Regions from separate parts of the Homo sapiens genome. Here all the other regions are linked to region 3. The links come from fine-mapping of genetic effects on gene expression. A gene starts in region 3. Each other region holds a variant in brackets. All regions are shown on one strand. Distances are from middle to middle. Region 1 has its middle 100 kb from the start of TBCA. Region 2 overlaps TBCA (tubulin folding cofactor A). Region 3 holds the start of TBCA (tubulin folding cofactor A). Region 4 has its middle 36 kb from the start of TBCA. Region 5 has its middle 25 kb from the start of TBCA. Region 6 has its middle 70 kb from the start of TBCA. Region 7 overlaps TBCA (tubulin folding cofactor A).

Region 1 (4,068 bases), 99 kb before region 3:
AGACCTGATGTGCTGTAGAAGCTCCCTGTCATGTCCTCAGCCACACTACACAGCAAGGCCATTAAACAGAAATTGACTGCTTTGTTTTGCCAAAGAGAAGAGTACACACAAACAAAAAATAGGCGGGCCAGGTGGTGCATGCCTGTAGTCCCGGCTACTTGGGAGGCTAAGGCGGGGGAATCACTTGAGCCCAGGAGGTTGAGGCCGCAGTGAGCTGTGAGTATGCCACTGCACTCCAGCCTGGGCAACAGAGCAAGACCCTGTCTCAAAAAGCAAAGCAAACAAAACAACAACAAAAAAGTACACATCAACACTGCAAGGGTCCCAACTAGACGAGATGTGGGGCTGCTGAGAGACCAGGGCGAAGGGGCAGTGTGTTGCTCCCGTTCCCAGGCAGAGCATAAAACATGGATCACAGGCATGATTGCTTAGGAGAGCGGCTCCAAGGGAAACTGCTATAAGACACTGTGCAAATCTGTGGTGTGTGGCCATCACGGTGTCAGGATGGGTATTAAAATGTAATTCTTGTAAATGAGAGCCAATTTTGATGCATTCACAGGAGGACCCGATCCAAACACTCAAGCTAACCCATTACCCTGTACGATGCAGACATACAGGCTGAAAATTTTAGTCAAATAAAGCTAAGCTGCCTTACTTGCTGTCAAAAAAAAAAAAAAAAAAAAAAAAAACAAGACTGGCTAAAATGTTATTCTCCCTGTGCCTGTATAAAATATCAACAAAACCAAGTTGACTTTGTTTGGATGGTTTAGATATACTTTCACTTTCGGATACCGTCCACTAAGTCCTTTACAAAGCACATTAAGTTGGCCTTGGTTGATCAAGTGAAATTGCAGATCCACCTTTAGTACTCAATTAGCCAGGGGTTATAGCTCCAAGAATACACAGACATATGGATCAGACATGGGGACTTAAACCTGATTTGGGAGCCCGAAAGAATTTAAAGCCAACTCTATCTCCTGCAAATGTCTGAGGAAGGGCGTGTGGCCAAAAAGGGACAGTCCCTAGAAGCCCTGGATATTTGACCAGCCTCTTTTTGTGAGATTGTGACTCAGTTCTCTGGGGGAAGAAAAAAAAAGGAGGCATAATGCCTGTTACTAAGGAAAATGCCGAAATCATGGCTGGTAGGTGAGCTCTCGGAGTGCGTAGCTTGGTTTCCTGACACGGATCTTCTGCAATTAAGTTGAATTTGGTTGATCAAGCAAAGTTGCTGATCATTCTCTTCCTACCAGGACAAAACAGTAGTCATAATCTCTACTATTTGTTTAGCGCTTTAATTATTTGACAAAGTGCTTTCTGGTAATTGTCTCTCTTAATTCCTATCACAACCCCTGTAATGCCGGGAATGATCATCAGGGCCAAAGCCTGGGGTTTCCAGAGAGAAGGAAAGTGGGTCCCGAGACACACAGTCAGGGAATTACCTGGGTCCTCAAACTTCAGAGCTGGTGCTCCCTTTCAAGTCAACTTGACCCTCTCAAGCCTTCATCCAACAATGTCCTCACTAAATAATTCTAACTCAGAGGGTGTTGTGGTGAAAG[A/C]CTTCCTCCACATTTTACTAGTTCTCTTTATTGACAGTCTTGGCAGCTTTCCATCATGATTTTCTAAATGTATTTCAACATAAAAAGCTCACACAAACTCTTCTCTAGAATAAAGTAAGTGCTGATGTTGATGATGATTTTTCAGCACTTATTTGGGGGACAAATATATTGGTTGCAGGAGCATCCTTCTAATTATTTGGCTGTTGAATACAGCAACTCCCTTGCCAGTGAATGCACTGGGGTATTAGCTTGTGGAGTTGTTGCTCACAGCAGAGGATGTCTGAGACTGGTTAGTTGGTTGACCAGGATGATAGGGAAAGACCATTGTTAGTATGGAAAGTAATGTTATGATGATTTAAGGTATTTTCCTAGTTTATAATTCTTATCCATCCATCTAACAGTGGGCTTCAAAGCTGTATTTGGTGCCCTCCCTTGACTGCAGTGTGTATACTTGTATACCTGTACATTTTGAAAGAAGAGGTTAAGGTAGAAAGCAGGGCACCCCAGATCCACTCTCCCACTGAATAGATCTTCCCACTACAGTCTCCCAGGCACTGCCCATGAGCGCAGAAGGAGAGGAGCCTCTGAACAGGTCCTATCTTCAAACTCACACGTGGTTACAGTGCCTCTCACAGAAGCCAGCTTAGCACTAGATGGGCAAGCACCTCATACCCACTGAGGCAGACTGGATACAGTTAGCATGATTGTTGCTTCTAGTGAGCTAACGCTGATCCTGGGTCCAGGAGAGGCAGAGCCATTTCTCTGGATTTTCCCGTGCTTATTTCCTCACTGCCACCACCACCACCAGCAGCAGCAAGCCCTATCCCTCTGCAGTTTGTCATCATCTTGTTACCATAAAAATCACATCTCAGTTTGGGCTGCAGGGCTCAGAAAATGTACAAGCACCATGTTAAATGTTATGATGTGAAACATCATTTATTTCTTCAAGAATTCAGTCCAGAGCTGGGGCCATGGTTTTGCAAAATTTGTTGTTCTGCCTCCTCCTCTCTCGTTCTTTTCTTCTCCTAAATCTCTTTCTCTTGCTCTCTTTTTCCTATTGACCACTTGTTAAATCTTTTTGTTTGTTTCCCCTCTTTCTCCTGGGACCCTCCGACAGGCAGCCTTGCCAGATTCATTTTCTGATCAAAGCTGTTTGATTTGGTCAATTTTGCCACATTGGAGACGTTCTCTATTACAGAGATAAATAGCTTTGGGCTAACTGTCAACGAAAACTTGTAAGCTAATAAATTATTCCAATTTCTTCTCGCGGATTTCTCTGGAGACAGCCCTAGGAAATACACTTTTTGATTAGTAAATTTCTCTGTGTGTGTGTCTGGACATTCAAATGTGTCGGCTTTGATTAGCACCATTGCTTTTCAAGTCGACGTTGGCTGAGGGGCTGTCAGTTGCAGGCAGCCCTGATGCATAATGCATCAACTGGGCCCAGAAACAGGAGCCTCTTCCAAGTCTGGAAAGGTGGGAAAATTGCCCTAACAACCCCACTGGCCCACTCTGCACCAAAGGGAGCTCAACTTGAAAGTCTTGACAAGACTTGCTTCAGCTGCAGTGGAAGCCACCCACGCTGGGCTGGAGAGACCACGACTGCAGGCCTGCCAAGAACCAAAGCCGCTGCTCCACCTGCTCCACCACCACCTCTCCCTCCCACAGTTTTGCCCCTGCATCCTCACCCACACGCTCCACTCCATCATCCTGGAGTCCCTGGGCAAAGGCCAGCCCCTTCTGGGCAGGCCTAGATTTCCCTTTGCCTCCCCTTGGATTCTGGTTTGCCGTTTGTCTAGTTAAGGGCCCTTGGGTTGTTATAGAAACAATATTTTGGCTATAACAAATCAATCGGTGCGTGTGAACGCAAACATACAGATCATTTATCAATGGCAAAATACCCTAAATTATGACCTTTCTAAAACCTATCAGAAGGGCGAGCGAATGCATAATGTAAATTAAAGTTTGAAGGGTCAGCGGTTTTTACTTTCACTATTCATCTTTCTTTCACCTTATAGGTTTAAGAACAAGAGGGCTGTGTAATTACATTTCAATGGGGTGCAGCGGTTCATTATTCCCAGCTATACCAATCTGCTGCAACATTTCCAATGCAGTCAGGTACATTTTAGCAGATATTAGTTGGTATAAGACCATACTTGCTCTTTGGACTGATAACATCTTTTAATGCATAACAGTGCTATCATCTCAATTTAGAAAAGGCTAAAAGGGTGAGGATTTTTTCTCAGATCAATACAGTTGTTCATATTTTATAAATGTGGTAAAGCCTATCTGGTAATTCTTCCCAGATATGATTTGCCCTTTGCCTCCCAGTTGCTCCCTGTCTCTGATTATCATTTCCCAAAGTCCCCACCACCCCATGTGTTAGGAGACAACATTTTGTGCTGAAGCCCACTGCACTGATGGAAATGGGTAGCTTCCAACAGAAAACCCTTCTGTTGCCAATGATCTGGCTCCAGTGGTGACGGGGCCGCGCTGCTGAGCGCAAGGGCTC
Region 2 (4,068 bases), 85 kb after region 3:
CTTTGAACGTCTCACAGAGATTCTCATTCTAGGCAGAGATCCTACAAGAATCCAGGATGATGATCCCAGATTGCCAGCGCAGGTTGGAAGCCGCATATTTGGATCTTCAACGGATACTAGTAAGCAAAGACTTCTGTGTCATGTTTAAATTTTTTTTTTCAATCCAATACATGGAAAGCCAAAAGTTTAAATATTTAACACTGAGAACTAGTTGGCAGTATTTCTTATTCACTTGCCCTTTATACCGCTATATTTTAAAATAATTAATGGAGTTTAAATTGTGTTTTGAATTATGCCTCCAGTAAAAGTACTGTTTTCTAGCATGTTTGTTCAGTTTATTAAAATTTAGCTAGTTAAATTTATTTAAGTTATGATAGTACCAGTATTGTCCAGCAATGTCTTGATTATTTGGTTTTCATACATAAAGATCTTTTGAGACATTGAGGATGAGTTGACTGATTAAAATTTTAAAAGATCTAATGTTTCAAAAGAATTTGGGATCTTATTAAAAGGATCTTGAATTCTTTCACATTCAAACCTAGATCAGTTTGAGAGGGGGAAAAAACCTGGTAATCTATGTAGTCCCCTCATACTAACTTGGAGCTGAATAACACTTATACTTGCTGGTATAAATGCCTTGTGATACAGAAGGTAGATAAAGCAGGAAATAATAACTGTTAAAATACTATCTAAGACAGGAAGCATCATTTGTATTTCTTGACAGTTTAAATGCTTTTTTCTCTCATGAATCTAGTAGCTGAGAAAGTAATAGAAATTGCTTGGAAAAAAATAATGTTGGCCGCCAGGTGCAGTGGCTCATGCCTGTAATCCCAGCACTTTGGGAGGCTGAGGTGGGTGGATCACGAGTCAGGAGTTCAAGACCAGCCTGACCAACATGGTGAAATCCTGTCTCTACTAAAAATACCAAAATAATAATAATAATAATAATGTATTTGGATGATATATTTGTATGTGAAGATGTATTCAACAATATCTCTGCCCTTGAAGAGCTTGTATTTACTAACAGAGAACAAAGATGTGTTTAAGGTATAACATGGAGGTTTAAGAAATTCTTACGTATAGTTTGAGCTAAGCAAATTCTCAGTCGTTTTGCTTTCAGTTTTCATATTAAATACACACATACTTTATTTCCTCTACTGTTTGTATATCTCCATCTTTTATTGACCTGACATAAATTGCTAACCATAGCTTCATTTAAAAATCAAACAAAATTTCCTGTGTACTTTAGATAATATTATTTCATTTGTCTGTTATCATTACAATATATTAGTAAAAGTTGCCTGTATATCAGTATTATGGAAAAACTCAATCTTTAAATATCAGAAAATGAAAGATGTATTTTGTTTCCTTTAGTGTAGGGTATGTAATACCCATTAGCAAGCAGGCAATTCATTTGTTTAATTCAAAGATTATATTTAACTCTGTTGTGACATCAGAAGCCTTCTTTGTCATTGTGAATAGTCAGTGGATTATTTTGGCCTGAATGCTGTCATATATGTAACATGTTAGTAAATCTTCCTTTTTACTTTTCTCTTTTGTATGATGATGATGGGTCAACAAAATGAGAATAAACTTTTTCTGAGGTTTTTATTTAATTAATGCTGGTAGCTTTAGAAGACTGTTATTCACTTATTTTATGAGAATATATACAGTGAAACAAAACCACCAGTTATTTCTTCCTTTCCTTGTAAAGAAGGAACAGAATGTGGGAAACCTGTGGAATTACAATATATTTAGATGAGGCTTGGGATTTTTTACTTTTAATTTTTTAGTTATTAACATTAATGGTTTGTAATATTTGAGTAAATAACAAAGTACTGAAACTTGAAAAGGATAAACTTAATTTTTATTGTATTTCATTTTAGGAAAATGAAAAAGACTTGGAAGAAGCTGAGGAATATAAAGAAGCACGTTTAGTACTGGATTCAGTGAAGTTAGAAGCCTGAAACTTTTCTCGTATGGGGTGGTTTTTGCATTAAATCCTGGGGTCCATTTTACAATCCATTATTTTTGACCACTGCTATGTGTTCAAGTAGTATGAGAATGTGATTGTTTTTATCTGGTTACATATATAT[T/ATT]TCTTTGTCTAATTTAATATGTCAAATAAATGAGTTCATCTAATAAAATTGTTTATTTTATACTTTACAAAATTTTTAAATTAACCTTTTATCATTAAACCACATAGACTTTATGACAGAGAACTATAATCTGTTAGGTTCTATTCGAAGTCTACATATTTTGCTTCACAAGCATGGATTGAGTTTTAAAAAATAGAATACCATTTTTTCAAATAACAATCCAAATTTTAGTTGGGTGTAGTGGTACATATCTGTATTCCCAACTACTGGGGAGGCTGAGGTGGGAGGATTGCTTGAGCCCAGTAGTATGAGGATGCAGTAAGGTATGATTATGCCAATGTACTCCAGCCTACGGAACATAGCAAGACCCTATCTCTAAAAGATTGAATTGTAAGCAGTTTATTTGGAATAGAATACAACTGATATAAAAGGAAGAACTCTCTTTGGGGAAGGTCTCACATAATAAGGCCTTCACAGTGAAACTCTAACATTTCCATGACTATAAATGAATGAGAAACATTTAAATCTTTTTCGAGGACAGATTCACACAGAAAACACCCCCAACCATTTAGATCTTCAAATAAGATTCTTATGAACAATGAAGAGTTGAATGGTATTTTGAAACAATAATGGCCATTGCCAGTGAAGTGCTGGCAAATATTTAAAGACTCTTCAGAATAGGAGGGGAACCTCTGATTGGTAGCTTTTGCTGATTTCTGTGGTATAAATACTCCTACCTTTGACCAATTTCAAACTACTAATATGACATCACTGAACACAGAGTTATGAAAATTTGGGCCAGCTCCACCATAATTTGGCTGTAGCCAATCTTGATTATCTAGATTGACTCGGGGGGGAAAAGTATCATTTTGTCAGAAAGCATTTTTCCAGTACAATTGTGACCCTGTTACCCAATCACTTGAGTTTATTTTCCAAAAATACAAGACAACTCATTTAGATTTTTTATATTTCCAGAAAATGTGTGTGAGCCTTATATCACCAGCCTAATGGGCATTGGTGTAAGGAACCAAATATCTATATATAGCATTTAAATTTGAAAAGTCAAAATTGGAAAAAAAAAACTTGAATTTTTGCTGCATTAAATACTTACAGTGTTATTATGGTTGGTATGATTTTGGAAGTTGTAGATAATCACTAGAAATCATAACATTTATTGAATCTGTCCAAAGATCAGAAAAGAGAAAAATAATTATTTTTTCCTAAGTTATTCTTAAAGGTTCTGTTGTTATAAAGCACAGATTATATCACTTATAAAATAAACTTAAGCCAGGCGCAGTGCTCACGCCTGTAATCTCAGCACTTTGGGAGGCCGAGGCAAGTGGATCACCTGAGGTCAGGAGTTTGAGACCAGCCTGACCAACATGGTGAAACCCTGTCTCTACTAAAAAATACAAAAATTTGCCGGCTTGGTGGCAGGCACCTGTAATCCCAGCTACTTGGGAGGCTGAGGCAGGAGAATTGCTTGAACCCAGGAGGCAGAGGTTGCAGTGAGCCAAGATCATGCCATTGCACTCCAGCTTGGGTGACAGAGCAAGACTCTATCTCAAAATAAAATAAAATAAAATAAAAATAACCTTATTACACATGCCAAAAATTACTTCTTCAGAGAATAACATATATCAGAAGCATTTCTAAATTGGAATGTCATCCCAAAACATATTACATGCCATTTTAAAAGTATTTGAGGTGGGAAAAGGAAAAGTTGAGAAAATAAAAAGTAATTATAGTGTAAAACTTGATATTAAGGTTTAGTGTTAGAGGTTTGAACACCAAGAGAATTAGATTATTTTGTGGTTGCTATCAAGTACCAGAGCAATAGATTGGCTTGGGAAGGGGTGGGTGGGTGGGGGCGGGTGCGGGGGAAGTGCCAATTAGTTTTCCAAGTAGTATTTCATTTACAGAAACTATTTTGGTATTTTTTTTAATGTATAACCTCTCTCTCTGTGTCTCT
Region 3 (4,068 bases):
AGTCCTGCCAACCTCCCATCTTATCCTGTGATTAAGAATGCCTAACCTCCTGGGAAGAGAGCCCAGCAGATCTCAGCCTCATATTACCCAGACCCTATTCAAGATGGAGTTGCTTTGGTTCAAACACCTCTGACACACCTGCACAATTCGAAACTGTTGTTCAAGGGTCAACTGTATACACAGACACAGATAAACTCACAAAGTGTCCTCCAGAGCCTGGGAATGGGCCTGGAAACACACAATGGCAGTAGCAGCAGAGGTCTTTTGGCTGCTGACATTTACTGATTATTGATTTATAGTAAAGGCACAGATACAAATCAATTAAAACAAAGAGAAAGGGGGCAAAAGGAGGGAGGCAGAATTGGGGATTGGGGGGAAATAGCAGGTATTTGTATTGGGAAGCCTAGTTTGAGAGAAACTCCTGCAAATTAGCACAAAACTGAGCTCTGAGCTTCTTGAAACCAAAGCAAAAAAGGAAAATATGACGAGTTACATGGTTTTTGCTACCTAATCAAAGGAAAGACCTTAACGGTAGCAAAAGCCCTAGCTGCACCATCTTTTGGTTTGTGGCTTGTAGCTGCTGTTTGTGTGTGTGTGTGTGTGTGTTTGTGTGTGTGTGTGCATGTCATTTTGCTTTGGTAAGTTTGCTGTTGTGTTTTATCTACCCCTCCCTCCAGTATTTCACAGCGCTGCTGTGTGACTTGGAATTGCACATCAGTATACCAGCCAGCAGAATAAAAATATTTATTGAATTCTGTGCCCATTGTGCACAAAACACAGGTGGAGGAGGTTGGGGAAGGAAGATTTATGGAAGACAAGAATCTTGCCTCTAAACATGTTTATGAACCAGGATTTATAACTACGAAGCTGAACAAAACCCTTACGAAGGACCAAACAATAATTTGAAAAAGAAATATACTAAAAATAATGATGACTACTGGGTGACTCCAAAGCATCCAGGGAAGATTGAACAGGTGGGGTGAGTCATAGTAGACTTTGCTCAGTTTTGATCCTGGATTTAAAGTAACGGCCTTGGGCTGGCGGGATAGAAGGGGATTCCAGGACCAGTCATGAAAGTGAGAATGAGTAAGTCAGGCTAGGGAAGGAAAAAGACAGTCATATGGGTGTCTTTGAAGGATGGTACCAAGAAATTTTAAAAAGGGGGTGGGCTCGGTGGCTCATGACTGTAATCCCAGCACTTTTGGAGGGTGAGGTGGGCCTCACCTGAGGTCAGGAGTTCTAGCCAGCCTGGCCAACGTGGTGAAACCCCGTTTCTACTAAAAATACAAAAAAAAAAAAAAAAAAAAATTAGCCAGGCATAGTGGAACGCGCCTATAATTCCAGCTACTCTAGGGGCTGAGGCAGGAGAATCACTTGAACCCAGGAGGCGGAGGTTGCAGTGAGCCGAGATCAAGCCACTGCACGACAGAGTGAGAATCTGTCTCAAAAAAAAAAAAAAGAAAAAGAAAAAGAAAAGCAATTTTAAAAAGGGCGATTCTGCCCTGTATTCCTCAGGAGATTCTCTTAGGAAGGGACTGCTAGAGCTCACTGTAGATGTGCCTCATTTTATGCAACAAATATATTTTTGAACATATAAAATAGTCAAATGTTGTTCAGCATCTACCATGCGTCAGACAATGAGCTAGGTGTTTTAACCCTTATACCTAATCTGTAAAATGGACATTATTATTTCCATTTTGCAGACTGATCAGCTGCAAGGCTAAACAGCATACGTATCAGTGTTGTCTAGCTAATAGTCTAGCTATTAAAGGGTGGAACCTCGATTGTAAGCCGGTTTGTCTGATTAGGAAGCCCAAGGTTTTGTGTGCGACACACATTCTTGTAAGTTAAATATTTAGGATACACTATAAGTGATCATCTGAAGAAGTTCTGTTAGTCATTTCCTTTGAAAGGCACGTTATCTACAAACCTTCTTGCAGGGATTTGAGGTAAAGGGCAAGGATTTTCTTGACTGCGTGCATGATGGCAGTTTGTTTCACTACACATGCATCACTCTGCCTCATCTGACACCAGATAACGACATCGAAAATACCCTTAATACATTTTTTAGGTCACTCCGTCCATTAAGCAGATAATCCCGCAAAGCAACGTCCCAGAGAGACGTTAGTTTCCCCAAAGGCCCAGGCTGTGGAGACCGGGATAGTGTAACTTGCGCCTGAAGTAAAAAGAGGGGCAGTCCGAGAGAGAGGAGGAGGGCACGTTTCACTACGGGTAAAGGGGCGCACGAGGGGTAAAGGGACTGGCGGGAGCAGGGTACCGCCCTCTAGTAAACCCGCCCCGCGGGGCGTGGCGGGGACGACGGGCCGCGCAGCCTGCGCATGCGCGCCGGCGACCACGCCTAAATAGCCGCAGCCTCTGCGCGTCGCCCTCCACGGTTACCCCGGCTCTCCGCCCCTCCTTCTCGCGGCGCTCGAGGGACCATGGCCGATCCTCGCGTGAGACAGATCAAGATCAAGACCGGCGTGGTGAAGCGGTAAGGAGCCGGGAGCGGCGCCCTGCACCTCCTCTTCGTCACCTCATGGCGGCCCGCGAGGCTGAGCGGAGCGCAGGCCCGAGGAGGCCCGAGGCGGGCTCCGAACTCCAGGCCGCACCCGGGGCTCCGCAGTTGGCTGGGACTGGCAGGGACCCAGCGGGGCGCGCTGACGCCCGAGCCCGCCAGCCTCGCACGCCGCTTCCCGTCCCTCTCCGCTCACTGGCCGCTCTGATTTGCCGGAAGAGTCGGCGGTGGCCCGGTTTCTCGGCGCCCGCGGTGGGAAGGTGGTGGGCCGCGGCCTGCGAGGGCGGGCCGGGCCCTGATCCCGTGCCTCCTGTGTGCGCGCGCCGGCCTCTCCTTGCTGAACTTGGCCCGGGGAAGCGGGATCCCAGCTGTGCTCTCAAATGGGCTTGAAAGCAGGCTCTGAAGTTTAGGGGGATGCGGAGGATCTGGGCCTCGTCAAAAAAGACCGTAGTGGAGCCGTGTGACCTAACATGGCTGGCGTGACTGGCAGGCTTTGAGAACTGGGCCTGAACTTCTAGCACACTCAGCAAACTTATGTGGCCTCACTTTCTCCAGTCAGATTCCCCGAAGCTCGCCCCAGAGGCTGTGAGATGCTGTTTAAATAACTTGTGAACCAGAAGTATCTGAGACAGGTCTTAATTTGGAATGTTTATTTTGCCAAGGACGTGCCCATGACACAGCCTCAGGAGGTCCTGATGACATGTGCCCAAGGCGGTTGGGGCACAGCTTGGTGTAATACGTTTTAGGGAGACCTCAGATATTAGTCAATGGGTAAGGTGTACCTTGGTTCCCTCCAGAAAGGCAGGACAACTAGAAGGTTGGGGGGCATCCAGGTCATAGATAAGAGACAAATGGTTGCATTCTTTTGAGTCTTTGATCAGCTTTTCACTTAATACACAATTTACATGTGAGAGAGGGATAGAAGAATAGTCACTTATGCCTTAGTCGGCTAAATGAATCTGCGATTTTACATACACAGTAGGGCAGAGGAAGCAGTCAGTTACGCATTTGTCTCAGGTGGGTAGAGGGGTGACTTTGAGTTCTGTTCTTTGTCCCATACCTGTGAAGATAAGCTATCAATTTACATTGCCAGGGTGAAATACAACAGAACTGTTTTAGAGTGAAGGTCTTGAGGCCCACAAGGAATTTCCTTGGGGGCAAATTGTCAGGGAGGTATGTAGCTTTTTTTTTTTTTTTTTTAATCTTTGTAGCTATCTTATTCAGGAATAAAATGAGAGGCAGGTTTGCTCGATGCAATTCCCAGCTTGACTTTTCTTTTTGGCTTAGTGATTTTGGGGTCCTGAGATTTATTTTTCCTTTCACAAACTCATGGGTAGTGCAGTCCTGTAATTTGCTTAAATTCCTGTAAACCAAGAAAGTACCTGAGACAGGTCTCAATCAGTTTAGAAGTTTATTTTGCCAAGGTTAAGGATATGCCTGTGACAGCCTCAGGAAGTCCTGATGACATGTGCCCGAGGTGGTCAGGCTACAGCTTGGTTTTATACATTTTAGGGAGACAGAAGACATCAATCAATACATGTACGATGTAC
Region 4 (4,068 bases), 36 kb before region 3:
TTATCCATGATGATGATGATGAAAGAGGAGAAGAATTCTATCTACTATTTAAACCTGTCTACTAGCTACTATTTTTTCCCTTGGGAATTGATGTAATTTTTAGGAAGCCATAGGAAGATTCTCCAAGAACTGAGAGCCAATTATGATCTAAGAACAAAAAAAGTTAAAAGCCATACATGATAGATGATATTAGCCATCTGGAAACCTCTTTAGGGCTAACATATCTCCTAAATCATTGGAGAAAAAACGTGATCATCAAATTTCATAAATAGGAGGATATTGATAGCCTAAAAGACACACACACACACACACACACACACACACACACACACACACAGAGAGAGAGAGAGAGAGAGAGAGAGAGAGATTTTGGTTGGAAGCCAGAATCAGAATACAGTGGGTTAAGGAGTAAGGGGGAGGTAGCTGCACATGGGAAAAGCAAGGGTAGATGACTTTCCCAAGCAACATGGCCAGGAGCTCTGATGCATTGTTACTGGGAAGGGAAATGGGTACAATCTTTCTAAATGGTAATTTGGCAAGTAAGAGCCTTGAAAATGTTAACATCTTTTGACCCAGTTATTCAACATCTAAGAAATTAGCCTAATGAAATAATCAGATATATGCCAAGATTTACATACCAGGAGACTCACTTAACGAATGTTGCATTTCATTGTGAAATATACCTCATATACAGAAGCATGCACACCACATTTGAGTTCATTTTAAAGAGTAGTAATGTGTCCCGAGTTCGGTCCTTCCGGTGGGTTCTTGGTCTCACTGACTTCAAGAATGAAGCCATGGACCTTCGTGGTGAGTGTTACAGCTCTTAAAGATGGCACAGTCTGATTAAGGACTCCAAGAGCTATTCCTGCTCTGTCTGTGACTTATAAAGAGAAGTTTTGTCCTGTGGGAAGGCTTAAGGCTGGAGCTTGAGTTTGTTCCTTCCAATGCCCAGACTTCAGGGTTGATTCCTTCCTCAAGCATGGGAGAACAAATGGGTAACTTGTCCACCATAGTCATGTACATAATAGCTCCAGCTTTGGCTAATATGTCCCTCCTTAATAAGGGTGTGGGACTTCCAGGCATAACAAGAAAGACATGTGAAAAGAGCAAAGTCTCCCAGTTACAACTGAGGAAGTGAGAGAAACACCTGGTTATAGGCCGTCCCAGGATTCCTTGGATGCTAATGGACCTTGAGGACAGCTGTCCAGGACAGGAGATTAACACTGAGAGAGCCGCACCAGTGTCCAGGAGGAAGTCAATTTCCTGGCCCTCAATGGTTAAACTTATCCAGGGCTCAGTGAGGGTGATGACATGAGCTGGTGCTTGCCCCAGACACCCTCAGTCTTGTTGTTGGATCATCTGGTTGGCGGCTTCTGGCCCAGAGAACCTTTGTCCTCTGGGGCAGTGTGACTTCCAGTGATTGCATCAGCATAGTGGACATGGGTGAGGGGGCAGCTTGTTTCTGTTGGACAATCTTTTTTTAAGGTGTCCTTGCAAACCACACTGATAACAAGCCCTCCCAGGTGATTGGTCTGCTCCATATTCTGTCCTCTCTGAACCAACAAGGTTTGTTTGTCTGAGGGCCATAACTAAGGCTGCAGCCTTTCTCTGATCTCACTTTTTCTTTTCAGCCTGTTCCTCTTGGTCCATATTATAGAACACCAAGTTTGTGAGGTTTAATAATGCCTCCACATTTTGTTCAGGGCCCAGGGCTCGCTTTTGGAGCTTTCTCCTGATATCTGCAGCTGATTAGGTAATAAACTTCTCTCTTAGGATTAATTGACCCTTGAGTGAGTCAGGTGACAGGGGAGTATATTTTCTAAAGACCTCCTGTAGCCGCTCAAGGAAGGCAGAAGGATTTTCTTCCTTTCCCTGAGTTATAGTGGACATCACTGAATAATTCATGAGCTTTTCCTAATTCTCCTTAGTCCTTCTAGAACACAG[G/A]TCAACAGATGTTTGTGACTCCAGTCCCCATGATCTGAGTCGAGGTCCCAGTGGGGATCCATACTGGGAATGACTTGCTGACCAGTAGGGAATTTGTCCCTTTCTTTGGTTATCATTCTATCATTTACTTGATTAAGATACCAGGTATCTCCAAACTCTAGGGCTGCAGCTAAAACCACATTCTTTTCATTAAAGGCCAGGGTTTGATCTAACAATAGCATGACATCTCTCCAAGTGAGGGTCGAAGGTTTGCCCTAGACCCTGTAGGACATCTATATACCTATCAGGATCATCTGGAAACTTCCCCAGATATACCTTGATATGCTTTAAATCAGAGAGGGAGAAGGGGACATGTACCCGGGTTGGGCCAAATTCCCCTCCACCTACAGCTTGAAGGGGACATAACTGATAGCCAAGGGTGTTTTGTGGTCCCTAGGAGATTTCTTTGCTTGTTTCCTTCCGGGCAGGGGAGGTTAGAGGAGGCTTATCATTAATAGGAAGGGGAGCTATAGGAGGATAGGATATGGGGGTAAGCTGAAAGGTCCTCCTGTGGGATGTAAATTGCAAGCTTTGCATAGTTGTGGATTCTCCTTCAATGAAAAGAAAGCTTGGACATAAGGTATTTCACTCCATTTGCCTTCCATTTTACAGAAAAGGTCAAGCTACAGGATAGTATTGTAATTTATACTTCCCTCAGGTGGCCATTTCTCCCCATCAGAGAGAGAATACTGGGGCCAGGCCGCAGTGTGGAAACAAATGAGCCACTGCTTTTTCAGGGTTTGTGGGTCAAATTGGTCCCAATGGCTTAGGATGCATTTCGAGGGTAAGCCTGTTGATGCCAGAATGTTTCCCATCTGAAAGAAAACCCGCCCATGGTTTTGGTTTGTTTACCCCTCTTGCCCAAGAACCCACAACGGTCCCTGGATCCTGCTGATTGGAAAAGTTGCACTCACCGATGCAGCAGCAGAAACCCCTTTTGCCCAAGAACCTGCAGCAGTCCCTGGACCCTGCTCATCGGAATAGTTGCACTCACCAACGCAGCAGCAGAAACCCCTCTTGCCCAAGAATCCACAACGGTCTCTGAACCCACTCATCAGAATAGTTGCGCTCACCAACACAGCAGCAGAAACCCTAATTTTCCTTTAGACCACAAAAAGGAGTGAGGAAGATCGGATTTAGTGGCCCTTACTGACGCACTCTCAAAAACCTGTTAGAGTCCTTAGTGTTCTCCTGTTAGTACTGGGACCTTACCCCTGTCCTATAAAGATGTTATGCCCCAAAAATGAAGTGGAGGGCCATACCCTGAGGGAGGGAAGGGATCTCCAGGGTTGGAAGAGTGTCTTTTGTCCTCATTTCTCATCATATGAATAGGAAGGATATCATTTCTGAGGCTCTCCATATCCTAGCTTCAGGAATAGCTTTTGTTAGGCCTGTTAGTCTGAGGAGGGATCCTAAAGTTCCAGATAGTCCCCCACTGGCTCCTGATGGGGCTTTGGGCAAAAATTATGTCTTTCTGATTGGTGAGCCCAGGTTCCTAAAGAAGGGAACAGAGTGCTGAAGTTTATACTAGAAATCATTCTTATAGGAGAAACTAGTAAAGCACCAGAAACTGGGAGTTGTTTTTAGAAGTGGGACTAGCCTCAGAGAAGAGAGTTGGGAGGAAGTTTGTCTGACAGGCATTAAGACCCAGGAGGCAAGGGTCAGGATAGATAGGATAGATGGATGAGTCTCGGTTGGGTGACGTGACTTTGAGAGTTCTGCTCATGACTACAGGGTCAAGCAACAACCAACTTTTTGTCGGGACCCCGGAGCTGAATGGCTTTCTTCTCTGTCGACCCTTGGTTCAGCCCAGAAGTACAGGAAAAGCGGAATCTGGTTCCAGGAAAATCAACACTCCCAACTCTGAAGAGTCCGGGGTTGTTAGAGAGCCCTTCCCAGAAAGGCTGACACCCATTTCTTTAGTCCGGCGGCCATGCTAGTGGCTTTTAACTGGTTGATAGGTGCCCGGTGTTGAGCCCCCGAATTCTAAGGAAAAATAGGACAGAATAGCAAGTGAAAGAGGTCCAATGGTACTCACTGCTTGGCAATAGTCCCTTCGTGGTCGCCAAGATGTGTCCAGAG
Region 5 (4,068 bases), 24 kb before region 3:
ATCACTAAAAGTCCATAATTTACATTAGGGTTCACTCTTGGTGTTGTACCTCCTATGAGTTTGGACAAATGTATAATGACATGTATCCATCATTATAGTAACATGCAGAATATTTTCACTGCCCTAAAATATCCTCTGCACTCTACTTATTTATCCCTCCCCATCACCCAATTCTTGGTAACCACTGATCTTTTTAGTGTCTCCATAGTTTTGCCTTTTCCAGAATGTCATATGGTCATAGCCATTATGCACCCTTTTCAGATTGGCTTTTTAACTTAGTAATATGCATTAGAGTTTTCTTCATGTCTTTTCATGGTTTCATAGCTCATTTCATGTTAGCATGGAATAATATTCCATTGTCTAGATGTACCACAGTTTGTTTATCCATTCACTTACTGGAAGACATCTTGGTAGCTTTCAAGTTTGGGCAATTATGAATAAAGCTGGTATAAACATTTATGTAACAGGGTTTTTGTATGGACATAGGTTTTCAAGCCATTTGGATAAATATCAAGGAGTGTGATTGCTAAATTATACGGTAAGAGTATGTTTGGTTTTGTAAGAAACTGTCAGTGTCTTTCAAAATGGCTTTGCCATTTTTGCATTCCTACCAGCAATAAAAGAGAGTTCCTGTTGCTCTACATACTCATCAGCATTTGATGTTGTCAATGTTTCAGACTTGAGCCATTCTAACATGTGCATAGTGGTATATCATCATTGTTTTAATTTGCAATTCCCTAATGATATAGACTGTTGAATATATTTTCATATTATTTGCCATTTGTTTATCTTTTTGGTGATTTTTAAATTGGGTTCTTCCATTTCTGCCCATTGAAATTTTTTAACTCATTGTTGACTTTTAAGAGTTCATTGTATATTTTTGGTAAGAGTCCTTTATCAGATGTGCCTTTTATAAATATTTTCTTCCAGTCTATGGCTCATCTAATTATTCCCTTGACATTGTTTTTCCAGAGTAAAAGTTTTTAATTTTAATGAAGTACAGCTTATCAAGTATTACTTTAATAAATCATACCTTTGATGTTGTAGCTAAAAAGTCAACACTATGCCCAAGGTCATCTGGGTTTTCTATTTTCTAGGAGTTTTATAGTTTTGCATTTTTCTTTTGTTTTTGAGATGGAGTCTCACTGTGTTGCCCAGGCTGGAGTGCAGTGGTGAGATCTCGGGTCACTGCAACCTCCGCCTCCCAGGTTCAAGTGATTCTCCTGCCTCAGGCTCCCACGTAGCTGGAATTTTAGGTGTGCGCCACCATACCTGGCTAATTTTTGTATTTTTAGTGGAGTCAAGGTTTCGCCATGTTGGCCAAGCTGTTCTCGAGCTCCCAACCTCAGGTGATCCACCTGCCTTGGCCTCCCAAAATGCTGGAATTACAGGCATGAGCCACCGTGCCGCCCAGTTTTGCTTGTTTCTAGCTTCTAGGAGTTTCACACTTTGTTCTATGATTTTTAAGTTAATTTTTGTGTTAACTCAGAACACACAAGAGTGCAAGTTCTGTGTCTAGATTAATTTTTTTTTATTTTTGGATGTCCAGTTGTTTCAGCACCATTTTTTGAAAAGACTTTTTGTTGCATTGTACTGCCTTTTCTCCTTTGTCAGAGATCTGTTGACTATATTTAGGTAGATTTATTTATGGGCTATTAGCTAGGTCTATTTCTGTTCCTTTGGTCTCTTTGTCTATTCTTTTGCCAATACTACACTGTCTTGATTATTGTAGCTTTATAGTAAGTCACGAAGTTGGGTAGTGTTAGTCTTCTAACTTTGTTCTTCTTCAATATTTATTGGCAATTCTGGTTCTTTTGCTTCTCCATATACATTCTCTTTACAATCAGTTTGTCAATATCTATAAAATAATTTGCTGAGATTTTGATTGAAGTGGCATTGAATCTATGGATCAAGTTAGGGAGAACTTATATCTTGACAATATTTGGACTTACTATCCATGAACATGGAATATATCTCTATGTAGTTCTTTGATTTCTTTCATCAGAGTTATGTGGTTTTCCTCATATTAGTTCTTGTACATATTTTGATAGGTTTATACCTAAGTATTTCATTTTTAAGGGGTGTTAATGTAAGTGATACTGTGTTTTCAATTTCAAATTCCACTTATTCCTTACTAGTATGTAGGAAAACAATTGACTTTTGCATATTAACCTTGCATACTGCAATCTCTAGAATCATTTATTACTTCCAAGAGCTTTTTTTTTTTTTTT[G/TG]GTCAATTCTTTTGGATTTTCTACATAGACAATCACGTCATCTAAACAAATATAGTTTTATTTCTTCCTTTCCAAACTGTATACATTTTCTTTTCTTGTCTGGTCTCATTGCATTAGCTAGGACTTCTAGTATGATGTGGAAAAGCAGTGGTGAGAGGACACATCCTTGCGCTGTTCCTGATCTTAGTAGGAAAGCATCTAGTTTCTCACCATTAAGTATGATGTTAGCTGTAGGTTTTTTTTGTGTCTATTCTTCATCAAGTCAAGGAAGTCTACCTCCATTCCTAGTTTACTGAGAGTTTTTATCAGGAATGGGTGTCAAATTTTGTCAAATGCTTTTTCTGCATCTATTGATATGATTTTTTTTAGCATGTCGATGTGATAGATTACATTAGTTGGTTTTTGAATGTTGAAGCAGCCTTGCGTAACTGGGATAAATCCCACTTGGCTGTGGGACATAATTCTTTTTATACATTGTTGGATTCAATTTGCTAATATTTTGTTGAGGGTTTTTGCATCTATGTTTATGAGGGATATTGGTCTGTAGTTTTCTTTTCTTGTAATGTCTTTGTCTGGTTTTAGTATTAGGATTGTCCTGGATCCACAGAATGAGTTAGAAAGTAGTTCCTCACCTTCTGGTCTCTTAAAGATATTATAGAGAATTGGTATAATATCTTTCTTAAATGTTTGATAGAATTCACCAATAAACCCATCAGAGCCTTGTGCTTTCTGTTTTGAAAGGTTGTTCATTATAGATTCAATTTTGAAAATAAGTACAGTCCTATTTTAATTGTTTGTTTTTTCTGAGTGAGTTTTGGCAGATTGTGTTTCTTAAGGATTTGGTCCATTTCATCTAGGTTATCAAATTTGTGGGTATGGAGTTGTTCACAGTATTTCATGATTATCCTTTTAATGCCCATGGGATCTGTAGTAATGCCCCCTTAACCTATCTTTTTAAATAAAAAAAATCTATCAAAAGTGCAGAATGTTTTAATAATATAATCAAAGTAGGAGTAAAAATAAGAATCGAACTTGAATGTTTTGGGAGCTTTCTGTGTGTTAGGCACTGTTCCTATCAGTACGTATATGGACTACTGCTTTTAATCCATATAAAGCCCCATCAAATAGGGATTATTGTCCCCAATCTAAAGAAGAGAAAACAGAAAGATTCAATAACTTGTCCAAGACTGTATGTCTTGGACACATAAAACTGTAACTAACCACATATTAACTACATGAAAAGATATGCTGACAGAAGGCTGGTCTCAGCCAGGAGCCAAGAAAAGAGGAGAGAAAGATTGAGACTTGGGGGGACTCTGCTGGCTCTATACACATGGTGAGGAGGCTTACTAGCTGATGTGAGCATCTGGTCAGTTTGCCTAGTACATCTCTCTAATGGAGTCAGATATGTCAGACAATTGTGCTATGAAGCTCAGACAACCAACTCTCCCACTCTCACTTTATGACCATCAGCCACCTTCTGACTATCACATTTTCCTACAAATGAAGGAATGCATACACCAGTTTAAACATTTATGTAGTAGTATTTCTCACTATAAATGAACACTTTGGCATTTGGGATTGTTCAATGGTCCCATGTAAGTTGGATCATGTGAGTCCATCCATCTGAGCTTTGTCAGTTCTTGATGTTCTGACAAACTTGAGTTTCTGCGCCTAGAGAGCTGAGGACCAAATCCTGGACTAAGGGGGCTCTTTCAAGGTAATGCCCTAGCAGCCCTACATGAGGCAGCCAAATCGCCTATCTGCTATCTTCATCTTGCTTAATTTAAATGCAATGATAATAAGTTGTTGGGATGTTCTGTCAGTTATTAAGTTT
Region 6 (4,068 bases), 70 kb before region 3:
ACAGGACAGTCTGGCTAGAGGCAGAGGGTGAGGAATAGGAGGAGTGAGGTGGGTAGGGGCACAGGCGGGCAGAGTTCTGCTAATAATATGAAGAAGTGGATAAAGGCCGAAAGTACTCTATACATTTAGCCTAAACATAATTCCCCCTACTTTGTAAAGAAAAGAAGAGAGAAAGCACTTATGACTTTCATCATGACCAATTCTCAAATCCAAAAACCATTTTAGGGGAAAAGAAATAATTTTTAAAGAAAACTTATGGTGGCCTCCATACCCCTATCATGGACTAGCCCAGGGGATAATTTAATGCAGTGGACAAAGGGCTAATGGCCGATTTCAATAGGAGCTGCCTCACACTGGAACATCCCGGGGCTGTTCTATTAGCATCAGAAAGGGCGCCAGGCCCTGTTTCCACCAGAGCTATTGTTGCCCGGGTGTGTCGCCAGTCCTATCCTGCAGAAAGCCTTTAGCCCTGATGGCAGATGATTCTCTAAGTGAATAGAGATGAAGGCAGGGATATTAAGTGACTCTATAAAACATCCCGGACACAATTGTGTGATTGATGGAGGACAAAGTGGGAACAGCAGGACACAGGATCCTGGGAGAAGCAGCCTTGTCAATGCGAGAAACCCATCTCTGGAAACAGCTTCTCCTGGAGGAGTTTGCAGTCTATTTGTATGAGTAATCAGCTGGGCCCCCTCTCTGTCAGCCCTGTTTACTCACTGATTTTCTCAACAAGACAACCATTGACACTGGATGGATGGGGCTAATCTGGCGCAGAACTGGCGGCTTCGCAGAGGCTACAGGTCGAAAATAGAGCACGGTGCCAGCTTCACCTCGCCTAATCTAGCAGCTAATATTTATTAGAGCCAATTTATACCGCTGCTCTCTCAAAGAGCAAGGAAGTCCTGGGTGCAATTAATAACATGGGCAATAACCACAGACAAACAAATAAATAAGGGTTTGTGAACTGTTTGGTTGGTTTTAAGGGAGGGTGGGGAGAGGACAGGGTTGGGTTTGCCACCTGGAACTGCAAGGAGAGGAAGTAAAGGTAGCCTTGAAGCCCCTGAAAAGGGGCATTCTCTTTGGCCCCCTCATCCAATCTCAGAGCAACAACTCGGCTGCAAAATGGCTTAGAAACCTGCACAAATGCACGTAATTCCACATTGCATCTAACAGAACTTGTACACAGACACCTGCCCTCGCAGGCAGAGGTGCGAGCGCACACTGCCATTGTTAATATCCAGCTTATGCGCATCCGTACACTGGGCGGAGGGAAACCCAGATCACAAGCCTTGCACTGCACTTAGCAGCCAAGCCCTGCAGCCACCAAGGAGAGTGGCTATCTGGGAGCTACAAACTGGGGAGGTGTGGGAGAAAAGAGAATGAGGATGGGGTACTAGCCGGAGGGACTCCAAGGTCTTGCTTGGAGGCCTCAGGCCCCTCTTCCTAAGATCGATGTTCTAGGATTTGAGAACTGTTTGTACAGATGCTGACAGTTGTTAAGTTTGCAGCGTTTGGATGTTTAACATGATTTTTGCCGGGCCAAGCTGGGGAGAAACAGAAAAAGAGAGTGTGTGTGCT[C/T]CCAATGGTGCCTTGTGGGCCTCAAGTGGGTATAAAGTCACGGACAGGCGTACATTGTAAAGGGATGGTAGGAAGCAGCATTGTTCTTAACCGGGAGCCGTTGCAGCGGGGGCTGCTGCACAAGCGCTGACCTCGCCGCAGCCAAGGCCTGCAGACCGCAGCCTGCCAGGAAGGGAGCCCTTTGCCCTCGCGCCCTGGTCTCCCCACTCGCCCTCCCCGACCCCCTCTGGGCAAGCGGGCGCCCGCGCCTTGCTAATTGCTCGGCTCCCTTCATGCACACATCTCCACTAATTTTACATTTCTCATTCTGCGGGTAGCTGGAAAGCGGCTCAGGGAATACGGTTCCTTCTCTTAGCTACCGCATGAATACAGTAAGTGGTGGCCGTCCAGGCCTCCCTGGCTGGGAGGTTTGGTAAATTAGCAGCTTGGCTGTATAATCAGGCGTTCGCCATTGAGGCCACAGTGCTGTACCCGTTAACCAGGTGAGATTTCATCATCTAATGGGTTGGGAGGTGTGACCGAGCTGCTAAGTTAGCAATTAAACTTCACAAATATCATTGGATTGCATTTTTTTTTTACAGGCCAAAGCCACGTCACCCCAGGCATAAAAGAAGAAAAAAAAAACAAACAACTTTCCAAAATGTACACACTAAGGGAAAATCTTTTGTGAAACACATGAAATGAAAAAACATGGTTTGGTACCTAAACACCATATTTGAATTATATTATCCTATAAAATACAGACCTCGTAGTTATGGTTCTAGGTCTGGAAGGGCCTGTTCTGCCAGCCAGTTCTCCAAAGGCAGGGCAGGATATATAAAACATATTATATTAGGTAATATCTAATATAGGACAGAAGAATCTGGGAAATAATACAGATTTCTTCCTTTGGGCCTATTGTTTTGATTTATTATTTTAGTAAGAATTGGAATCAAAGAGAAAAGGGCAAACACTCAGGTAAAATGTTATTCCAAGCCTGTAACAGCCAACAAGAGCCAGCTCCCCAGGTGCCTGTGGGACCTGAACCCCTGCACCTCCACCTTGCTCTTTAAGGTGTAGCCATATTAGTTGGAGCTGGTGACTGAAATACTTGGTGTACATTAGGAGATCCTACTTAGATTTTCTTCCTGGAAACAAGTAAGCTCTCCTCTTGATGTTGAGAATTCCCTGTGTCTGTAGGTATGTGGGATAAATATGTAGTATCTCTAATAGAGAGAGATAGATAAAGACGGTGCAAGCAAGACCTAGTAGATTCTTCTGAGTGTTAAATGCCTAAATGGAAACATAACAGAAAATATTATTAGCTTTATCTGCCGACACCAGGGACGCAGGTTAAAGTATTTTTCATTTAATTTGATAGAGAATAAAGCACTTAAAGCACTTGATGATTTATTGATCAAATAGAAATCAGGCGCCAGACAACAGCTCCTTACTTAATCCCCATTCACACGATTAAAAGCCAAGTGAACTTTTTTTTTTTTTAACAATTTGCTCAATAGGCTTTATGCTGTATAAAGAATAAAAAGAGAACCGTTCTTCTGACCTATAAATCTCTCCTTTGGCTAATATGAATGACTACGGGGCACGTGAACCTCCATTGAACTGTAAACACTGTTTTAATGGACAGTAATGGCCCTATGATTTTTAGCTATTGTTCCAAAATGACTACCATGTTTATTGCCATCATTAAAAATGAATTAAAGAGTTATGAAACTCCTCAATAATGAGAACTCCGGCCGTTTATAAGCGGTAGCACTCTTTTCCCCTGCTCAGGCGGCAGGTTCTGCCTGTCTAGGCTGGTGCAGGCTGCGGGACACCCACCTGGAGCAGCGGTTTGGGGGAGCGGGGTGGATAGAGTATTTCTTTGGGGGAGAGAGGTGAGGGCCTAGAGGACTGAGAGAGTGGAAGGAGGAGACGACGGGGTAGTGGAGGGATGTCCGGAAAGCCCTGCCTGCTCGGACGCTCCCCACGAGGAGGCGCGCGCGTGGGTAAAGCGGGGAGCCGAGGGTCTCGGGGAGGGCGCGATGTGCCCCCTCCCCGGCAGCCTGAGAGAGGCGGTCTGGAACCAGGACGGCGGGAGGGGGTTGGGGGGTGAGTGGAAATAACAATAAGGAGAATAGGGTGGAGGCTTCGAGAGACATCCACGCGGCTGCAGCCAGGCCGAGAAAGTACCCGGGACCAGGGCGGGGGCGTCCGGGCAGCCGCTCCAGTTCTCCCCACGCCGCGCAGCAGCGACCGTACTCCCACACCACCTCCCCACAGCCCCCGCGCCGCTGGGGGCCTCGCGGGAAAATGGCTCAGCAAAGTTGCGCACAGCCCATGCACTGTTCTCCGAGGGGTCCCTGGCTGGAGCCTGCACGTTTCTCTTTGCATTAGCAAAGCCCAAAGTCATCCAGTTTGCGCTAATCACCACAATTAGTCCTGAATTATCACCGGACTCTGACAGACGTTCCTTGTAACTCTCTTTTATTTCCAACAGCCCTAATC
Region 7 (4,068 bases), 21 kb after region 3:
CTAGAGAGCAGTCTTTAGCTGGGGTCCCGTTCCTAGGCAAGTAGCTGAATTGGGGTTTTTTTCTGGGCTAAAGTTAAGATGAACAACCAGCTGGCCTTAATTTCTGCTTACCATTAGAGCACTCTGTAATCATATTGTTGGATTTTTTGTTGTTGTTGTTGTTCTGGTCTTTGTCCCATCAGATTTGACCAACTCTACCTGACGTGGTCAGATCTGAATGAGAATTCCAAATTATGGGGAACAAAGCCTCTGAATTGGCTAAAATTCCTTACACTTGCAAAAAGAAAACCAGAATAAAACCAAGCACTTGGTTTCTGTATTTGTTTCCTGTCTTAAAAAAAAATTGTTCTTTCATTACTTTTCTTACACTCTATTGCTCCTTACCCCTTTTGCCATCTTTGGTACCAAGAAAAGGTCTAGAGAAGGCTTTTAATGACTCGAACTCTTAAAGAACTCACAACAAAGGTGCATTCACCTGTTTTTGGGGTGTTCTGTTTGTGGAGTTTCAAGGGTCATGGGCAGATTCTTCTTAGGTCTAACGCTCTGCTTTCCCATATTGCATTACCTGATCTCTTTGGCTTTCGGGGGTTCCAGAGACTACCCTGTACAGTGAAAGGATTTGACCTTGGTGTGTGTAATGGTGGATGAGAACTACAAAGTTAAAGGTGGCTGAGGACAATTTATAGGAAGCAGTCCTAGCTGTTTTTTTTTTTTTTTCCTCTTAGGAAGTTGTTCTTTAGGATGCTAATTCTAGCGGGCAAGATTCTTTAGAAGATTCTAAAGTCTTCATTGCCTTTCCTTCCAAAATTAATCTCCATTGGCTTGTCTGCACATTCACCTGAGAAACTGAAAAGTCATTTTCATAGATAAATGAGAGATTGTGTTTCCTCAGCTCTGAAGATAAAGGTCATTGTGCTCCTCCCAACCAGAAGGTGCCTCTGAGTGACCGGGAGCCCAATGGGAGTGTCTGGGGGGTTTACCCCTTGTGACTTGTGCAGCAGCCCTACAGGGAACTCCCAACACAATTAGTTTAAAAAGGCTTGTCTAGGAAATGCATATAGGAGCTGGTCACTCTGCACTTTGAGCCCTCTGGAAGGTGCTAGACCTCTGGAGAGAAAAATTGAGACGTAGGAGGGTGGAAATGACTCCATGGTGACACACTGTTGAGTCCTCCCCACAATCAGCACACTTGGACCCACTACACGAAATCCTAGGCTGCGGTCTGGTTCCTCCTTTTAAAAAAATGTGACAAACAAATCATCTAATAATGAGGAAAAACAAGGAGAACGACCCCCCTTGGGCAACCCATTTGTGTTTTTTTTTTTGTTGTTGTTGTTTTTTGAGATAAAGTTTCGCTCTTGTTGACCCAGCTGGAATGCAAATGGTGCCATCACTGCTCACCGCAACCTCCGCCTCCCGGGTTCGAGCTATCCTCCCGCCTCAGCCTCCTGAGTAGCTGGGATTACAGGCATGCGCCACCACTCCTAGCTAATTTTGTATTCTTAGTAGAGACAGGGTTTTTCCATGTTGGTTATGCTAGTCTCAAATTCCGAACTTCAGGTGATCTGCCCTCCTTGGCCTCCCAAAGTGCTGGGATTACAGGTGTGAGCCCCTGCACCCGGCCCCTATTTGGTTTTATGGTGCCTCTAGTTGCAAATGGTTATATAAATGGAAGAGCATGCCAGGTTTTCTAATACTCCAGCTAGTTACATATTAGGTCTGTTCTTGTGCACATTTTATTTATTTATTATTTTAAATTTTTATTTATTTTTTGAGATGGAGTCTCGCTCTGTGCCCAGGCTGGAGTGCAGTGTCATGATCTTGGCTCACTGCAACCTCCACCTCCCAGGTTCAAGCAATTCTGCCTCAGCCCTCCTGAGTAGCTGGGATTACAGGCGTGCACCACCACACACGGCTAATTTTTATATTTTTATTAGAGACAGGGTTTCACCTTGTTGGTCAGGCTGGTCTTGAGCTCCTGACCTCATGATCTGCTC[A/G]CCTTGGCCTCCCAAAGTGCCGGGATTACAGGTGTGAGCCACCGTGCCTGGCCTCTTGTGCACATTTTAAACTGATGGGCAAATTACATTGAGGAAGAGTCAGATCCCAAAGGTTAACCTGTAACTATAAAATTCCTAAGTTCTCTGTCTCTCTGCTTTCTTTTCTGCCTGCTTTAAGTCTGCTGCTACTTTTCTACTGAGATAAAATCCACTGTATGAATCCAACCATTTCTTTTTGTTATTGTTTTTGCAAACCAGTGAGTTTGTATTACTATCTCATGGCTAGAGTTCTGAAGTAAAAGCTGTAGAACTTTGTTTTTATGAGTATGTGTGTGTTTATGTATAGCTACATGTATTTTGTTGTGTGTTTTTGGCCGCAAGGTACCAAATTTAGCTAAAAGAGTACTCATAAATTAAATAATAATCCCAAATACTTTTCAAGTTCACATGACTGAAGTAAAATATTTAATAATGTAACTTTTAAATTATTGGTAAAATAATATTAGAAATGTCTTAAGAATTGTCAGCATTTTTGTTTGCATTTATTGATGAAACAATTTCATTTTTATCTCTGCCAAATACTCTAAGGTTTAAAAAATAAACCCAGCCAAAACCAGAATGATCTTTGGTTGTGTAATTTTTAATAAGACATTAATATTGGTTTAATGAAAACAGCTATATCTTGAATTACTGGTAAAATAACCCTGTATATAATCTTAAGGTTCTTACTTAGGTAATCACCCAAAATTCACAGGATATAAAAATGGTTGACAGGGAAATAACTTTACATGATGACTGTCACAGTTTTCATAAATAATCTAGGTAAACTGTTAAGTAAATGTAGTGGAATAAATACTTGTAAATAAACTTGTCATAAATTAGAATCTAAAGTTATACTGAATATTTCATTAAATGTCTGGATATTTTTCAATTTAAAAAACGCATTGTAGGAAAACATTCTAAAAAATATATTCTTATTAAAAGGTAAATAATTTGTCTAATTCAAAGCTTATTTAAAGGTTATGTATAAAACAAGGTAAAAGGGACCAGGAAGTAAGAGAGATGTAAAGAAAGTTATAGAAATAAATAGGTATTTTTGGTAAGAAAGGTTAAAGAAAAGTAATTTTATGTGAGAAAGAGTCTTGTATGGTGAATTTTTATCCTAAAATAAAATGACTGGGTTCTTCAAGAAAGAGAAATATTCAGGACAAGCCATAGAGTCCAGACATGCTGTGAATGGTCTAAGTTTTAATAAGGTTAATAAAAAAGGAATTTATACAAATATTATGTGACTGGCTGGGGGCAGTGGCTCACACCTGTAATCCCAGCATTTTGGGAGGTCAAGGTAGGTAGATCACTTGAAGTCAGGAGTTCGAGACCAGCGTGGCCAACATGGTGAAACCCTGTCTCTACTAAAAATGCAATTAGTCGGGTGTGGTGGTGCATGCCTGTAATCCCAGCTACTCATGAGGCTGAAGCAGGAGAATCACTTGAACCCAGGAGGCAGAGGTTGCAGTAAACCAAGATGGCACCACTGCACTCCAGCCTGGGCAACAGAGCGAGAATGAAAACAAACAAAAAATATTATGTGATTAATTGGCTATAATTAAAGGAAACTATAATAGTTTTTGTTAAAATTGAACTTTGATATTAAAAATACCCTAATACAGAATTAAATAATTGGTTAAAACAAGATGTCATTAAAAATAGTTACTCAAAGCAAGATGTTTTTAATTTTTAAATTCTGTAATCTGTCTCATTTTGAAGTTATTCACGATATCTCAGAAGCTATACCCTGCTGCCTTACCTCCTTCTCTCTTTTATGAAGGCCTGGGATGGTAACTTTCTGCTTCAGCTTTTGTTGTAACATTTTTTAAATTAATGGTTTAAAGTAAGGGAGGGAATGTTTTTAAAAAAGCAGGTGAAAAATGTTGGATCTGCTTTTGTCTGCATGTCTCTTATATCTGTATATGTGTCAGGAGAAAGTGATACTTCACTATTAAACTGTGTGAAAGAGCTCTAATCAATTGACTTAAAGAAAAGTAAGGGCTTGCCATTCTGATAGAAGCTA

The links.
Region 1: its variant is fine-mapped to the expression of TBCA in whole blood (TOPMed, PIP above 0.99).
Region 2: its variant is fine-mapped to the expression of TBCA in whole blood (TOPMed, PIP above 0.99). The same link has a PIP of 0.9 or more in blood mononuclear cells and lymphoblastoid cells.
Region 4: its variant is fine-mapped to the expression of TBCA in whole blood (TOPMed, PIP 0.98).
Region 5: its variant is fine-mapped to the expression of TBCA in monocytes after LPS (Kim-Hellmuth 2017, PIP 0.95). The same link has a PIP of 0.9 or more in monocytes and monocytes after triphosphate RNA.
Region 6: its variant is fine-mapped to the expression of TBCA in whole blood (INTERVAL, PIP above 0.99).
Region 7: its variant is fine-mapped to the expression of TBCA in esophagus mucosa (GTEx, PIP 0.94).

The regions. Positions count from the first base shown.
Region 1 is chr5:77,874,037-77,878,104 of GRCh38, reverse strand. No RefSeq gene overlaps it. Among named protein-coding and RNA genes, the nearest start is that of TBCA, 100 kb to the right of the region's middle. The variant A/C (reference allele first, on the strand shown) is at 1,557.
Region 2 is chr5:77,689,317-77,693,384 of GRCh38, reverse strand. TBCA (tubulin folding cofactor A) reads left to right here. Exons shown (of 4, transcript NM_004607.3): 3 at 33-119; 4 at 1,887-2,219. The coding sequence ends at 1,967. Among named protein-coding and RNA genes, the nearest start is that of OTP, 53 kb to the right of the region's middle. The variant T/ATT (reference allele first, on the strand shown) is at 2,097.
Region 3 is chr5:77,774,631-77,778,698 of GRCh38, reverse strand. TBCA (tubulin folding cofactor A) reads left to right here and starts at 2,360. Exons shown (of 4, transcript NM_004607.3): 1 at 2,360-2,494. The coding sequence starts at 2,442. RefSeq lists silencers at 2,214-2,473, 2,594-2,763 and an enhancer at 3,781-4,068.
Region 4 is chr5:77,810,476-77,814,543 of GRCh38, reverse strand. No RefSeq gene overlaps it. Among named protein-coding and RNA genes, the nearest start is that of TBCA, 36 kb to the right of the region's middle. RefSeq lists an enhancer at 3,754-4,068. The variant G/A (reference allele first, on the strand shown) is at 1,948.
Region 5 is chr5:77,798,913-77,802,980 of GRCh38, reverse strand. No RefSeq gene overlaps it. Among named protein-coding and RNA genes, the nearest start is that of TBCA, 25 kb to the right of the region's middle. The variant G/TG (reference allele first, on the strand shown) is at 2,232.
Region 6 is chr5:77,844,519-77,848,586 of GRCh38, reverse strand. No RefSeq gene overlaps it. Among named protein-coding and RNA genes, the nearest start is that of TBCA, 70 kb to the right of the region's middle. RefSeq lists enhancers at 1-948, 1,675-2,259, 1-2,668, 3,154-4,020. The variant C/T (reference allele first, on the strand shown) is at 1,582.
Region 7 is chr5:77,753,279-77,757,346 of GRCh38, reverse strand. The region is part of intron 1 of TBCA (tubulin folding cofactor A); the gene reads left to right. Among named protein-coding and RNA genes, the nearest start is that of TBCA, 21 kb to the left of the region's middle. The variant A/G (reference allele first, on the strand shown) is at 1,998.